Regions from separate parts of the Homo sapiens genome. Here region 2 is linked to region 1. The links come from fine-mapping of genetic effects on gene expression. A gene starts in region 1. The other region holds a variant in brackets. All regions are shown on one strand. Distances are between the middles of the regions.

Region 1 (8,532 bases):
GTAAAATGGATAGCTAAGTTCACGTGATGTTAAGTGTAAAACAGGAAATAGAATTCCCCTTGTTGAGGGTGGAAGTATGTCCAATATTCCTTCCCAACCGCAGCCAGCAGTCCAGGGCCTGGGCAACACTCACAGCTCAGTAGCAGGGGTGAGTGCCTGCTCTGAGGTCCACGGTGGCCAAAGTGAGGCCATCAGTGTGTAGAATAGTGTGGGGCTGACCCCTCCCACATAGAGCACTATTACTGTACTCACTCTTGGAGGTGTGCTCCTGCATCCACTCTGAGGCATCTCAGAAAGAGTAGTTTCACCCACGGCAATTCAATCTATGACAGCAGGTCATTTCTCATCTTCCCATAAACAATCGGAATCAGAATTTGAGAAACAAACATTCATACAACATGCCTTATATTCCAGATAGCAGCTCTAGTACTTTTCACACATCCAGTATCTTATTTAATCCTCTACCTTATTTAGTTATTTAATCAGACTACCCTGTCTGGGTCATTGCCTCCACTCCACAGGGGGAGAAATGTAGGCTCCCAAAAGTCAAGTGATTTTTTGCCCTGCTAGGAAGTGGATGAACAACCAACGGAGACTGGGGTCTGTGTGATTCCAAAGCCCAGACATCTTGAGGCGTTTCTAGATAGAGCAATGTGCTGGTGTTGATGCAATCCAAAGAACAAGTGAAATTCCTTTTTTCCAGTTTGTGATTTAGAGCAAAGGCAGTTGAAGGTTTTGTTGTTGTTGTTTAATTAGGGACTAATATTAGAGTAAAACTGCAAAATGAAAACCCAAGCTGATAAGTCCGTGGAAAAATGGATACTTAGGCCATATTTATATATCTACAGTCAACATTTAGAGAGCCTAGATTAATAGAGCAAACAGAGTAATGGTGATTACCCTGGTAACAAAATCTCCATTAAGCCTTGCTTGAGGAGAAAATGAAAAGCTTGAACATCTGTCAGGTTCAGCAAGAGTTCACTTAGGATCAAAAGAGTTATGTGCTCTTTTTTCCTTATAATCAAAATTACCAGAATGAGAACAGATCATTGTCTGGGAGCTCCGTGGTTGAGAAACCCCACTAGGGTCCACGAAACAACATGGAGTGACTTATGTCATCCGCACAACCTCTCAGGGTCAAATCAAGGCCTGGCTCCCTGGAGTTTCTTCCCACACAGAACAAACCATTGCCAGAAATCTTAATGTGTCATTAAACCAAATTTAGCCCGTGGTTTCAGGTTCACTTTTAAAAGGAACTTGTTAGCACATGAGTTGCATTTGATAAGCAAAGCCATCTGGCATTTTAAAAATTGCCCTTTTTGCCTTACCAGATGAAGAAAGAGTGTCCAAGAAGTTGGAGCTATGTCAGATTTTCATTTTCCTTCTCTTCTTGGGCAGAACAGTTTAAGCCAACCATCTCACATTGGAAGAATAGCAGCTCCAGCCCAGCATTTATTGGAGCTTTCCTCTTCCTGGCTAGTACCTGCCATCAGGTTGGTAATATTTTGCCATCCTTCATAGGGGCATGGATAGACATACATGCACCTGCTAAAGGCAGTGCTGTGTACTTTTTCTTTTTCAAAACATATTATTTGGCAATGTGTTTTTTCATCCAATAGGATATTTGGGGGGGATTTGTTCATTCCACAAAAATCTACCTTATCATATCTATCTCATATCTGAGATTAGAGCTGCTTCCTCCAGCTTGGGTCTCAGAGCAAGAACACACCCAAGGCTGACCAGAGCCGACCTGCAGCCCCCGCACGGAATGGCTGAGAAAGAGGCAGTTACTGCCGTAACACACTGGAATCGTGGGGTCCCTCAATACCATAGCAAAGGCGGAAAATGGCAACCAAATCCTGAGAAGTAGAATTGCTGAGTCTTAAGTCCATTCCACAAACACTTTGAAGAGAGATGTTTTGAATATACTGTTCTGGATTCTGGAGATCATAGTCGTAAACAACAGTGAAGGAAACCAAGTTCCCCAAGTTAGGGTGCTTACATCTTGTGAATATTATCCTTTTTAAAGTTTTAATAGGTGCTTAAAAAATTGCCCTTCTCTCTACTATTTGTTGATAAAGATAGAAAGAGGGAATTCATGGTGCTTTCTCTTTCCAGATTTTCTCTTCTATTTTCCAATCTTTTAAAAAAAATTCTCACTCTAAGCATGGGCTCAGCAAATCTGGATGTCAATCAACCAGCTCTTTCCCTAGGAGCCCCTGGCAGCCAAAGTGGATGCCTGTGGAGTATCCCCTTGGCAGCCCTACCCTTCAGCTTCCCTTTGACTTCCCTCCTCTGTATAAAGGGCAGACTTGGCTTTACTACACCAAAGTGTCACACACATGAGATTACGGAAGGTCATTGTTTACATGGCATGAATCCTAGGTGGGAGCGGGTCCTTCTGTGGTGGCATGGCCATGCTAGGCTGTGAGCCCATGGCTATCTGTGGAGTGGGACAAGTGGAATGGCCAGCCTGAGAGCCACTGGTGGGGTGGGAGTGTGGAGAGGGGAAGACCCCGACTCCAGAGCTCATCCTGGCGAGGTCAAGATGCATCATGGAGGTGGGCATAATGATCCCAGCCCCTGCTTGCCTTCCAAGTGACACACTTTTCCCTAGCCCCTTCCTGTCTGTTCTGTTCTTCAACATTGGTGTCTTGCTGAGTCAGGGCCCCATGTGGAAGTACTTGCCCGGGCTCCTGATACCTTAGTTGGGGCCAGCTACCCGTCTCAAAAAAGACAACCAGTCTTCAGAACATGGAGCTGATGTCCCTTTAGAAACTCGCTGCTGCTTCTTAGGGGCACTGCAGGGAGGAGGGAATGTGCCCGGCTTACTCTGGAGCCTAGAAGGTAGCACTTATTTTGAGAGTTAAAGGAACTTTCCCATTGTTCATTGGAAAAGCTGAAGCATATAATGGCTGGTGAGCACTCCTGGCTAGGGGCCTCTGAGTTGAATCCATCTTCTCTTCTAGGGCTACATGTATCTGCTGGGCTGGGTCTTCCTCTGGCTCCAGCCTTTATTTCCAGGCAATTACCTCCAGCTCTTGTACTTCCCTGGTCTGCTTTTCCCACTTGGTCTATGTCTATGCGGCCTCCTGCTGCCATATCCACGAGGGTTATGACCAACATGTCCCCATGTTCTTGAACCGCCTGCCTATAAGCATCTTTGGAAATGTGGCACCCTCATTTAACAAAGTACACCCTCCAAAAGTCAGGCACCACCATGCAGTAAACAGCAGCAAACATAAGCACTCACTTTTTGCATGTACTCTTCAAAAAAATGTGCATGTATTGGCTGGCCTCGGTGGCTCACGCCTGTAATCCCAACACTTTGGGAGGCTGAGATGGGCAGAGATCAAGACCATCCTGGCCAACATGGTGAAACCCCATCTTTACTAAAAAATACAAAAATTAGCTGGGTGTGGTGGCACGTGCCTGTAGTCTCAGCTATTTGGGAGGCTGAGGAAGGAGAATCGCTTGAACCTGGGAGGTGGAGGTTGCCGTGAGCTGAGATAGCACCACTGCACTCCAGCCTGGTGACAGAGCGAGACTCCATCTCAAAACATGTCCATGAATTAATCTTCACACAATCTTATACAGTTAGCTGGTATTATTACTCCATTTTAAAGGTGAGGAAATTGAAACACAGAGCAGTTAAGTACCTAGCCCAAGGTCACACAGCTATTCAGAAGCTTATCTAGGAATCAAACCTAGATGTGCTTAATCCAGAATCTGTGATCAACACTATTTAAACGCAACCTGAAGAAGGCAACTAGTGTAGGGGTTAGTATTAAGGAAGTAAACTCAGCAGAACTGGCTCATTCCTAGATTGGAAAAGAGTGAGGGTGAGGAGGCAATGAAGAATGATCCTGAGTGCCTGGTTTAGGTGGAACCATCTGGCACTTGTCAGAGAAGAAAAGAATCAAAAGGCAGAGTCACAGGTGTGGGAGATAACAGGCTGAGCATTGAGTTCTGGGGCCCGTGGGACTGCACGTGGATGGCTTGCAGGCTCAGCTTTGGCCTAGGGAGTCAGACCCTGCCTGCTTCTGGGCCCCAGAGCCACCCCCATCCACTTGTGATCTGGGAAAGTCATTTAACACCAGGACCCTTGTTTTCTTATCTGTAACATGGAGATGCTGGTAACTCGTGCCTCATAAAATCACTTGATGTGGGTGAGAGAGAAAGCTAAGTGTTGATGACAGTGTGGGCCTGACCGTGCCTGAGTAAGCCCCATGGGAACACAGCCGTGGTGGGAAGCAGCTTCCCAGCAGCCCTCCCCGCCATCGGGAGAATCCCCTGAGGCCATGAGAGGGTCTCAGGGAGGTGGACGGCCCATCAAGTGAGAACCGAGGGCACTGTGCACTCCTGAATCCTAGGACTCCTCTTAGGTAAGCCTTTGAGATTTTACTTTGTTTTGGATAAACTGATTCTTCCAATATATATATATATATATATATATATATATATATGTATATCAAAATCTCACTAACTTAGCAAAATTATAGTTAGATAGTAAAAATAGGTTCTAATTCTCTATAGCACTGAGGGTGAATATAGTTAAGAATACTTTATGTTTTCTAAAAGCTAGAAGATTTTGAATGTTCCTAACACAAAGAAATAATAAATATTTGATGTAATAGATATGCTAATTACCCCAATTTGATCTATTTTATATACATATAGAAATGTCACTCCATATCCCATAAATATGTGCAATTATTATGTGTCAACTGAAAATAAAAGAAAAAATACCAATAAAATATGAAACTTGATTTTAAAAAAATCTTACACACTTAGTAACAGCAAAATAACTGAGTGGTAAACATCATCTTATGTCTGCCCTAGAACGTCAGGAAATAAATTCTGAAGCTAGAAAAGGGATTCCTGCATTTCTAAGAGTGTTGACGTTACTATCTGGACCAGCCAGCTGCACTGAGAGGTGGTCCTACTGACTCAGCACGTGCTTGAATCACAGGGTTCAGGTGGTAGATGGGTGAGCGGCACTGATTTCAGATTAAAACAGCAACTCTCTAGAGACCTTATTTCTATTAATATGTTCTACTGCTGGGACTGACTACAGCATCTAACAGGCCACTTCACTGTTTTGTTTTAAAGATTTAAAACAGATCAGAGTCAAAGCTTGCATTCTTTGACCCTCTATCTGGTTGATGATTCTGAGTAAAAGGAGAATGGGTGTGACTGACTCAGCTCCATGGGACATAAAGCAAGATAAAAATGAGGGCACAATGGAAAACAAGTGACAGCAGTGAGAAGCAGAGCATCCTCTCTGCTGCGAAGCATGTTGTCTGTGTCGTTGGCAATGCTGGAGAAGCTATTGGACAGAAAGGGGAACTAAAAAAGTGTGGCTCCCACAGTACATCCAACTGGGCTTGTTTAAGACACACACATAAAGTGCTGGACTGGAGGGAAATTGGAGACTATGTGGCCACACACTTGCACCAACAGCCAGAATGGGGAAGTGGCCTAGTGAAGCTTAGCTGTGCAGAACCGGGTTCCCAGCTCCTGATTCCTGATGCCAATTAATTCCTAGTAACCAGGTTTTATTTGTATTTTGTTCAAAGCCCTCCTTCTCTGTGCAGCATCCCTAGGCCCTCTGTCCTGGAGGGGTGCCTTCCCCTCTGACATGGCACTACCACCTGTCATCTCTGCCCAGCCCGGGCTGGGCACTTTCTTCAACCTTTTGTTGCGGCCACTTTCCTTGACTTTCATCTTCTAGAGTGGGAGATTGAAGGGATGAGAAAATTGCAGTTCAGAGATGTTAAGGAGCATATCCAAGGTCAAAGCCCACTTGAAAGAGAATTTGTTGAGGTCCCCAGAAAGTTAGCCACTACTTGCTTTTGACTCCCCTGCCTACCTGACCACCTCTTCTCTGAGTACACAGAGTGGCTCTGAGGAAACTGCAGGTGAACCCCACCTGTGCCAGCCCCTGGAAGCCACCAGTCTGTTTTCTGATATAATGATTTCGCTTTTTCCTTTTTGGTAAGGTTATATACATGTATTTATATAGCCATTTGGTCTTGCTTCTTTTACTGAGCAAAATTTATTTAGAATTTTCTTCATTGAAAAGTTTTTACCTGCAAATTTAATGCCTTTAATAGATATAGGACTACTGGTTATCTATTTCTTTTTTTAATGAGTTTTGATAATTTTAATCTTCCACGGAATTGGTCTATATCACATAAGTTTCCAAAATTATGGGCATAATGATGCTTTGTGGATTCTGTTATTATTTTGTAATGTCTGTGGGATCAGCAATGATGCTTCCTGTTTGAGTCATAATATTAATAATCTAGGTTTTCTTGTTTTCTTTATGATCCTCACTACAGCTATGGCAATTGTATTGATCCTGTTTTAAGAACAAGATTTGTTTCCTCTGTTGTTTTTCTGTTTTCTGTTATTAATTATATCAACCTGCTCTAATTTATTCTATTTTATTCTTTCTGCTTGTTTTAGTTTTAATTTTATTCTTTTCTCTAGTTTCTAGTTTTCCTAAGTAGAATATTAGGTTAATAAATTTAAATCTTTCTTTCTAATATAAGGCTTTAATGTTATAAATTTCCCTCTAAGCACGCATTTAGTTGTATTCCCCCAAATTTTGATATGTTTTATTTTCATTCTCTTTTCATTTTTTAAATTAATACACTTTTTAAGAGCAGCTTTGGGCTTACAGAAAAATTAAGCATATAGCACAGAGAGTTCTATCTATACCTATTATTCACCCAAACACACGCACACACGGTTTACCCTAGCTTTTTTGTTTGTTTGTTTGTTTGTTTGTTTGACATGGAGTTTCGCTCTTTTGCCCAGGCAGCAGTGCAATGGCGTGATCTCGGCTCGCTGCAACCTCTGCCTCCCGGGTTCAAGCAATTCTCCTGCCTCAGCCTCCCAAGTAGCTGAGATTACAGGCATCTGCTACCATGCTTGGCTAATTTTATATTTTTAGTAGAGACAGGATTTCTTCATGTTGGTCAGGCTGCTCTCGAACTCCCGACCTCAGGTAATCCGCCCACCTCGGCCTCCCAAAGTGCTGGGATTACAGGCGTGAGCCAGCACGCCCGGCCAGTTTACCCTAGTATTAACATCTTGGATTAGGGTGGTACTTTTGTTACAGTTGATAAGCCAATATATACATTATTTTAACTAAAGTTCATAATTTACATTAGGATTTATTCTTTTTATTGTATATTCTACGGGTTTTGACAAACTTATCATGATTTGTATTCACCATTACTGTATCCTATAAAAGAATTTTACTGCCCTAAAAATTTCTGTGCTGTAACTGTTTATCTGTCCTTTCCTTCTCCCAAATCCCTGGCAATGACTGAACTATTCACGGTGTCTGTAGTTTTGCCTTTTCCAGAATATCAGGTAGTTGGAATCATGTAGTATGAAGTCTTTTCCAATTGGCTTCTTTTACTTAGCAATATGCATTTAAGTTTCCTTTATGTATTTTTACAGCTTGATGGCTCAAACTTTTTATCACTGAATAATACTTTTTTACTTTTTTCACTGAATAATAATTCAGTATATGGATGCACCACAGTTTATCCTTTATCCATTCACCTATTGAAGGACATCTTGGTTGCTTTCAACTTTCGGTAATTATGAATAAAACTGCTAAAATATTTGTGTGCAGGTTTTTGTATGGACAGAAGTTTTCAACTCATTTTGGTAAATACCAAGGGCTATAATAGCTGGATCATATGGTAAGCATATGTTTAATTTTGTAAGAAACTGCCAAACTCTCTTCCCAACTGGCTGTGTGGGAAGTGACCGTTTGTATTACCAACAATGAATGAGAATGCCTGCTGCCCCTTATCCTTGCCAGCATTTGATGTTGTCAGTGTTTTGGATTTTAACCATTTTAATAGATGTATAGGAATAGCTTACTGTTGCTTTAATTTACAATTTTCGAATGACATATGATGTTAAGAATCTTTTCATATGCTTATTTGGTGAGCTGTTCATATCTTTTGCCTGTTTTTTCAAATTGCTTTGTTTTCTTATTGTTGAGTTTTAACAGTTCTTTGTGTATTCTGGATGCAAGTCCTTTATCAGATCTGCAAATATTTTCTCCAAGTCTGTGGCTTCTCATTTTATTTTCTTGACAGTGTCTTTTACTGAGCAACAGTTTTTAATTCTAATAAAGTCCAACTCTTTTTTAATTTTAATAAAATCCATAAAATTTTGCTTTCATAGATTGCCCTCTTGGCAATGTATCTAAAAAGTCATCACCAAATTTAAGGTCACCTAGATTTTCTCTTATTCTGTCTTCTACAGGTTGCATTGTTCTGTTTTTTACATTTAGATCCCTGATCTAAGTTACTTTTAGAGAAAAGTGTGAGGTCTGTGTGTAGATTATGTTGTTGTTGCTGTTGTTTGTGGATGTCTATTTCTTCCAGCACCATTTGTTGAGAAGACTATGCTTTCTCTATTGAAATGCTTTTTTGCTCCTTTGTCAAAAAAATCAGTTGTCTATATTTATGTGAGCCTTTTCTGGGCTCTCTGTTATGT
Region 2 (8,000 bases), 170 kb after region 1:
GGCATGGAGGGCACAGGATAGAGCAAGAAAACCTCCATAGGCTTGAGAAATAAGTATGTGATATGGTTTGGATCTGTGTCCCTGCCCAAATCTCATGTTGAACTGTAATCCCCAGTACTGGAGGTGGGGCCTGGTGGGAGGTGTATTAGGCCATTCTCTCATTGCTATAAAGAAATGCCTGAGACTGGGCCAGGCACAGTGGCTCACGCCTGTAATCCCAGCACTTTGGGAGGCCAAGGCAGGTGGATCATCTGAGGTCAGGAGTTGGAGACCAGCCTGGCCAACATGGCAAAACCCTGTCTCTACTAAAAATATAAAAATTAGCTGGGCGCGGTGGCAGGTGCCTGTGAGCCAAGATCACGCCATCACACTCCAGCCTGGGCAACAAGAGCGAAACTCCATCTCAAAAAAAAAAAAGAAAGAAAGAAAGAAATACCTGAGACTGGGTAATTTATAAAGAAAGAGGTTTAACTGGATCACAGTTCTGCAAGCTGTACAGGAAGCATGGTGCTGGCACCTCTTGGCTTCTGGGGAAGCCCCAGGAAACTTATAATCATGGCAGAAGGTAAAGGGGGAGCAGGCACATCTCACGAGGACAGAACCAGGCAGGGTGGTATTGTGGTATTAAACCATTCATGATAAACCGCCCTCATGATCCAATCATCTCCCACCAGGCCCCACCTCCAACACTGGGGATTACAATTTGACGTGAGATTTGGGTGGGGACACAGATTCCTCATGAATTGTTGAGCACCATCCCTTTGGTGCTGTCTGTGATAGTCAGTGACTTCTCATGAGATGATCTGGCTGTTTCAAAGTATGTGGCATCTTCCCCTCCTCCTTGTTCCTACTTTTGCCATGTAAGTTGCCTGCAGCTCCTGCTTTGACTTCCACCATGATTGTGAGCTTCCTGAAACCACCTCAAAAGCCGGGCAGACATTATTGCCATGCTTCCTGTAAAACCTGCAGAACTGTGAACCAATTAAACCTCTTTTCTTTGTAAATTTCCCAGTCTCAGGTATTCCTTTATAGCAACAGAACAATGGCCTAACAGTAAGTTTAACAAGAAGAATTAAAAAAAAAATGTGGGAAGAAACCCAACATGTAAACAGGTAGAAATATATACTTGAGGATTTGAGGGGATAGAAGAGGTGGAAAGATAAATTTTAAAAATTATATTGGAACTATAATGTGCTTTCATTCAAATGTTGTTTATAATCACAATAACATACTGCTTTTATATAAGCTGAAATGACATCTAAAGATAAAGTGGCTTTGTGGTTGGAAGGATGTAACAGCATTGCTGAGTTGGGCTGGGCTGGAGGAGGGTGTGCAAGGGCTTTAGAAAGTTCATGGACTTCATAAAACAAAGTGTCTAGGTCTGCCCAACCCTGGCTTTTTGCAGAACACAACCGGGAGGGGCCAGGGCCACGGCAGATCTATGAGAGCTTCCAGAAAGAGCACTGCTCCTGCCTTGTGCATTCCTTTTGGACTTTGCTTTTTCTCTAGAAGACTGTGGCCACTGGGCAGGTGGACAAAAGATGGTGTGCCTGCTCCAGTGCAAAGAATGGCAGCATGCTGGATCATCAAATTGATAATTTTACAACTAAAGGAATATTGAAACATTTTGGAAAAATGCTTCCGTAGAACAAATTCACACTCTCCACCCCAGCGTTTCATTCTTTCCAGACCCACAGGTTTTGTTCTCTTTGTAGGAAACTATAGATGATTTTGGCTTCTCCAGCATCAACACTAATATTGGTTTTATAGGAAACCCTGTGACATGCACAAGGAAATATTTCAGATTATGATCATCAAGCCTGCCCAAGTCCTACACAAAGCTGATGCAAGTATATTTAAAAAACCATTAGGCCCTGTTACTCACTTCTGTAAGTGGAGAATTCAGAAAGGGCAAGGGAGTCTTTCATTGCCAGCTCCATGTTGACCCTCTCCCTTGTGTTCAACACCAGGCCAGAGATTAACCAGCCCCAGTCCAAATGCCCTCACCCAAATTCAAGAATGCACTCCACTTCTCAATAGGCTGCCCATCCAGATAGACGCTGTTTTAAGGGGCTTACTGGTGAGAGGAAGAAAGCCTAGGTCTGTGCCCTGAGGGTAGACTGGAGTAATGAAAGTGACTGTTGGGCATGCTTTACCTGGGCAAAAAGCAACCGGGCCAGGGTCAATGTGCACGGAAATGTCAAAAGTCAATTTTGTTGGCCAATCCAACAGTCCTCTTTGTGTAAGCCTACAACCACTGGTTTCAGTGAACTCTGGCCAGTCCTAGCTAGATGGCCAGGACTCCACTGGACTGGTTTGAGCAACCCCTGAATAAAAAACACCTGGGTGCCATGTCATAAGGGCTATATCACAAGTACAAGAAGGGTGTGTGGCTTGACATACACTACTGGGGAAAAAACAAAGAAATATCATGCAAGTAAATGCAGTAGCTGCTGAGCTGCAGGGACCAGGTGGGGTCAAGGTGGTGGAGAGCCTACCCGGTTGCTTTCGCTCTTTGAACGGTCATTCTTTGCCTTGGCTGTCTTTTCTGCAAGCTTCTTCTGCCTTTGAGGGCCTCTTCCAAAGAAAATGTAGTTGACAAAGGCATACTCCAGAAGGGCCAGGAACACAAAGACGAAGCAGCCCATAAGGTACATGTCAATGGCTTTGACATAGGGGATTTTGGGCAAGGTCTCCCGAAGGTGGGTGTTGATGGTTGTCATTGTCAGCACAGTTGTGATCCCTAGAAAAGAAACAAAGTGGTGAGAGGCTGAAACTTTGCCACATTGGTCTTCACTTTTCACTTTCCTTTTATGTTTTCTCAAACAGCTTTAAGTAGTCAGAGATAAGGGGTTGAATACTGTGGGGTGACTGGAATGCAACAGAGCATACATCTTGTCATTTGCACCGCACGTCACCACTCAGAACAGCAAGCTGACATCTGTACTCTGGGGAAGTGAAGCCGTGCAGGGCATCTCCCTCCCCCACCCACCCCCCTGCCCACTACACCTTGCTATCACACACGATGGAATTTTGAGAGTAGAAGAAGAGATATGTAGAGCAGGAAAAAAGAATGTGGTTTTTATGAATGCTGGAAAAAATAAAAATAAGCCCAGAATTTAGCATAAAGCACAAAGTGTCTAGATGAGAAACCTCCAGGAAAAAGAATGAATTTGAGGTGTCTGTGGCTGCAGAGGCAAGGCTATGAGCGAGAGCTCAGTGAGGCAGCCTGTGAGAAGAAAATAATTCCTACTACAATGCTTATTGGAAGCAAGAGGAAT[G/A]AGGCAATGATTTTTAAAATTATTAGCCATGAGATCCAGTCCTGAGCTCAAAGAGAAAGAAATAGCTGAGTGAAGCTTCTGAGGGAAGATGATCTCAGAGAGCGACTTCCCTCCTCAACTAAGAAAGAATCTGTACACAAGCTGCTTAGGAAATGTTTGCTCAAGTTAAGGGTTAATGATTTCATTCATCTTATAGAATCCCACCATACTCTGGCGCAACTCATCAGATCCTTTTTTTAAATGTCGTTATGTTGAATTCTTTACATAGTATTGTATGGATGATCTCATTGTTTCCCAAATAGAGCTCAATTTAGTCTAAAACCATGTGTGGACCATGTATTGCAATTCTCCCTCCCATAGCAATAGACATAAGATTCTGCACTGAATCATCTGAGGCCATAGACACCAGGAGGCAAGTCAGTGACATGCCCAGAGCTTGTGGAGTTAAGTTACGCTGCGCTTACAGGAAAGGCACGGATCACTCCCTTGTGGTAGGGTGGGATGGTAGTACTGCAGCTGACGCGCTCTCTTGGAGACTGTATTTTTGACATATTAATATGTCTCAAGGAAGCAAGACAGCTTTGAGGGCTGAGCTCTTTTCTACGTATGCCACTGATGCCACTGAATGTGAAGATGTGGGTTTCAGGACCCAATAAAGAGAATAGGTTCCTCCGCATTGCTTTGTCAGGCTTCCCTGAAAAAGGAGACTTTCAAAGGAGAGAGCTTAACCATAATCCTTCATCCTCAGTAACCCAAAACCCACATGACATCACTGAGGCCAAGAGGTAGTGCCAGCCCTACATTTCAGCACTGTCCAGATATGTACTCTGGGACGGAGCCCAGGCCATTCTGCACATGGTCCCAGCCCAGCCCTCCAGGGCAGAGTTTGAATTTACTAAGCATTCCAATTTCATGCCCTCTGATTTCCCATCCTATCCTGGGAGGCAGCATCCTCATCCTCTGTGTCCCACAGGGAGAACCTTGAGACTGCAGAGCTCAGCTGGCCTGGGAATCAGCTGGAGAGCAAGCTAGACAGCCCAGTCTTCCATCTCCAACACAAGCGCTCCCTCCACTGAGCTCTGAACTGCTACTAAAAGCTAAGAAGAGAACTGAAGACTTGAGAAACTCTTTTTATGTAGAACTGCAAACCATGGTTGCTGACGGAATGTATGGAAATCCAAGATGTCAGAATATTTTAAGATTCTCTTTTAACATCACATTCATGTGCACCTGGGGACTTTTTAAATTTGAAAATGGCAATGGGATAATTACTGTTTACAAATAAATGTGAAAACACCACATAAATGCTACAAAATTAGGCATTCTCACCATTATTCAAAAAGTTTGTAATGTTGTTGCCACTACCGTCTCTCCCCCTTCAACTTGGATTTGGGAAGACCGAGCGCTTTGCTTTAGTCACGACTTTGCCTCTCCTGCTGGCTATTTTGAATGGACATGTATGACACAGGCCTCGGCAGATGTCCCAGACAATGGGCTGAAGGCACACAGGAATAGGTACAGCCAGCACATCTCACAGGCACTCAGCCTGGTAAATGAACCCCAGAGGGACCTGGGCTAGGACCCTGGATCCAGGCTGATTGGCACAGGCTCAGGAATCCCTAACAATAAGATTTCACAGTGAGTACTTCAGGTCTTTCTAGTTTGGACCCACATGCCACATGAGTTCTTAGCTTAAGAGGCCAATGCATTTACTAAGTCCTTCTATTGCTTTACCTGCTATGGGGGATACTGTGGATGGTGGTGTGTTGTGGTGGTCCACAGCCTGTAAAGGGGAGCCACATGGCCCAGACCCAAAGCCCAGCTCTGCCTCTGTGGGTCTGTAGCCATCATTTCGAGCTGTTGGAAATCTAATGGCAATGGCTGAAAAGCTCTGATGTGCCAATAAATAGTAACCGGCACTGTTAACACTAACAACAAATAATCATATGACTATCATCATTACAGAAAAATCATTCTTCGGTAGCCTCTAGGCTTCCTGGCCTTGCCTTGACCTTCTGCTCTCTAAAGGGAAATCATCCAGCTGCAGTACAGGAAATGGCTGGGTGGTGGCTTTCGTGTTTTTTTGTACGTTCACCAGGCTTGTAAGTCTTTCTGTAAATTGCTAGCCTCAACTTATTTGTCATTTAGATTATGTATGAAATATTGTATTTGAAAGCTGTATTTATAAAAATGAATATGAAATAAAAATATAATTTCTTTGCATTATTTAGTCAAAATATTTTGTTTCTCCTCCTCATGATAAAAATAATCTGGCCTAAATTTTATCAGTATACGTTTTTACCTTTAGAAGTATCAGTACTTTTGCAGATTGAGCATCTCTAACCTAAAAATCCAAAATCTGAAATGTTCCAAAATCTGGAACGTTTTGAGCACCTCCATGGTGCTCAAAGGAAATGCTAATTGGAGCATTTCAGATTTTGGATTTTTGGATTAGGGATGCTCAAACTAAGTATAATGCAGATACTCCAAAAGTAGAAAAAAATCTGATTTTCAAAACACTTCTGGTCCCAGGCATTTTGAATAAGGGACACCCAACCTGTATTCACTGAGGGTTTTGAGGGAGGCCATCTAATTACAACTTCCCACTTTAAAGTTTGGTGGTCGTTAACGCTAACAGTTCAATGTATCTGATGGTCAGACCCTGGGCAGCAGAAGCATATCATGCTGAAGCCCACAGAGCAGCCGAGGAGCACGGCTGTCTGAAGAGCCAGCAGAACAGGCCCTGAGTCCCTCCCGCGTTGAGTCCAGGTCCAACAGTGCCCAGAGCCCAAGGGTGAGCCCTCAATAGAGGCCTCTGCCGAGCCCCACCCGTCCTAGCTATGCAGAGGCAGCACCTTTATCATGCATTTAGAAGCAATGTGTATTGATCACAGTGCAGTCCCTTAGGATGAATGCAAAAAGCACTGTAAGCATTTCAAAGCTGTGCTATAAGACTAGGTGCTTGGGAAGGGGTGGCAGGAAGGGGGATTTCTCCAATGAAAGCCCTCCAAACTATAGCTGTATCCTATGGAGCTCAGTAGCATCTTAACAGTTATGAGGGATTCCTCAATAATAAGAGTTCATAATGTTTGGTTAGCTTTTTTCTTTTCTTAAACAAATCCATGACTTTTACAACATAGTAGACCAAATAACTCTTTACTGTAGTTTTACTGACACTTTAGGAATTATATGCAGTAGTTAAGGGAGAAGGTCTGGAAGTCATACTAACTGGATTGAAATCTTTCTTCTGAAACTTGGTAATTATATGACTTCGTACCAGTTACTTAGCTTCTCTGTATTCTATTTTTGTGCTCTGTAAAACTGGAGCAATAATACTTCGTACTGTGCTGTGAGTCTTCTCCAGAACAGATAAACTACATGAATGGCCTTAGCAGAGAATGTGGCACCTAACTATGTGATAATTTTCAGCCTTTATTAATCTTGTCTGTTGTATTGATGATGATGATGATGATGATGATGTTACTCAGTGCTCCTGACACTGCGTCATACTTTTTCTGAATTCACCAACTGACATTTCCCAGTGACTGTAGATCTAGACTCAGTCTTGTATTGGCAGGAGGGACAGAGGGAATGCATGTGCAGGTGTCAGTCATACTCTGAGAGCTGGATCTGTTGGGTTCTTGTCTGGCCAGACCCACAGCCCTAAGATCACAGCTGCCCTCTTGACCTCGGGGTCACCCTAACTCTAGTGAATATCCCCTTCACTCTGGCTCTCATGCTTGCCTCCCAGAGCACAAGCGTCAATCCTCCAATGTTGAAGCCTCAGCAACCCTAGCCAGCCCATGCCTTTATCCCAGCAAAGCCACAGAGGCACAGTTTGTTTATATTAATAATGCTGTCATGAAGAAAAAGTGGAATCTACTTTCATATAACTTAATGAAATTGGGTTGAATGTAACTCACTTCCGGGGTATTAACGATTTAATACTGTAGAAGGCAATACTTTACAATTAGGGAGGGACAGAATCTGTAATGGCTGGGAAATTCAGATATGCACATTTTCAGTACACCCCACCCCTTGTGATGTCAGATAATCATGGTTCCTTGGTACTCATATTTCACTAACTATCGCAGTGACGGCAAATTCTCTGTAGCAGATGCTTCAGATCGGTCTCCACTTTCATACGCCTCTTCTAGGCTTGGGGAGGGGTCCCAGCAACTTTGTATTTGTATATTTCATATTATTTTTCTTAAAAGGGGGTGCTTGAAATTGTATAAGCTAACAGCTCTGCATAATTTAGATCTGCCTCTACAAATGTATCTTTGAATTTTCCAAGTGAAAAAAGAGTTTAACAAAGAGTAATCTAGCAATATACGTATTTTTAAAGTAAAAGCTACATAAAGACTGACATTACTGGGGAAGATCTGCAGGCTGTAGAAAAGTCCTGGAGATTTTTTTTCTTTTTTTAGAGAACTGTGCTTATGATACCTATTAGAAATACATAACAATTAAAACAGCACTTTCAGTTTTTTGCAGCTTTACTCTTCATAGAGTGGTTTTCTTATCCACTTAACACCCTTAGGAATAGCTACCTGATTTTCTCAAGCCATAATTATGTGTTATTTCCTGGGAAATAAATCTGATCTTGATTACAACTATGCAAGTCACATGTTTGTCATCCATATACACACATGTACTTACATTTTATTAGAAAAGAAAACACGTTATTCAATTTAAAGTCCTGGGAAAAGTTGGTAA

Evidence for each region. PIP is the estimated chance that this variant, and not a neighbour inherited with it, causes the effect.
Region 2: its variant is the best candidate, but not a certain one, in a credible set for the expression of LINC02248 in atrial appendage (GTEx, PIP 0.60).

What each region holds. Positions count from the first base shown.
Region 1 is chr15:26,390,860-26,399,391 of GRCh38, forward strand. It overlaps LINC02248 (long intergenic non-protein coding RNA 2248), which reads left to right and starts at 4,198. Exons shown (of 6, transcript XR_001751453.2): 1 at 4,198-4,385.
Region 2 is chr15:26,558,434-26,566,433 of GRCh38, forward strand. It overlaps GABRB3 (gamma-aminobutyric acid type A receptor subunit beta3), which reads right to left. Exons shown (of 9, transcript NM_000814.6): 8 at 2,499-2,743. Among named protein-coding and RNA genes, the nearest start is that of LINC02248, 170 kb to the left of the region's middle. The variant G/A (reference allele first, on the strand shown) is at 3,282.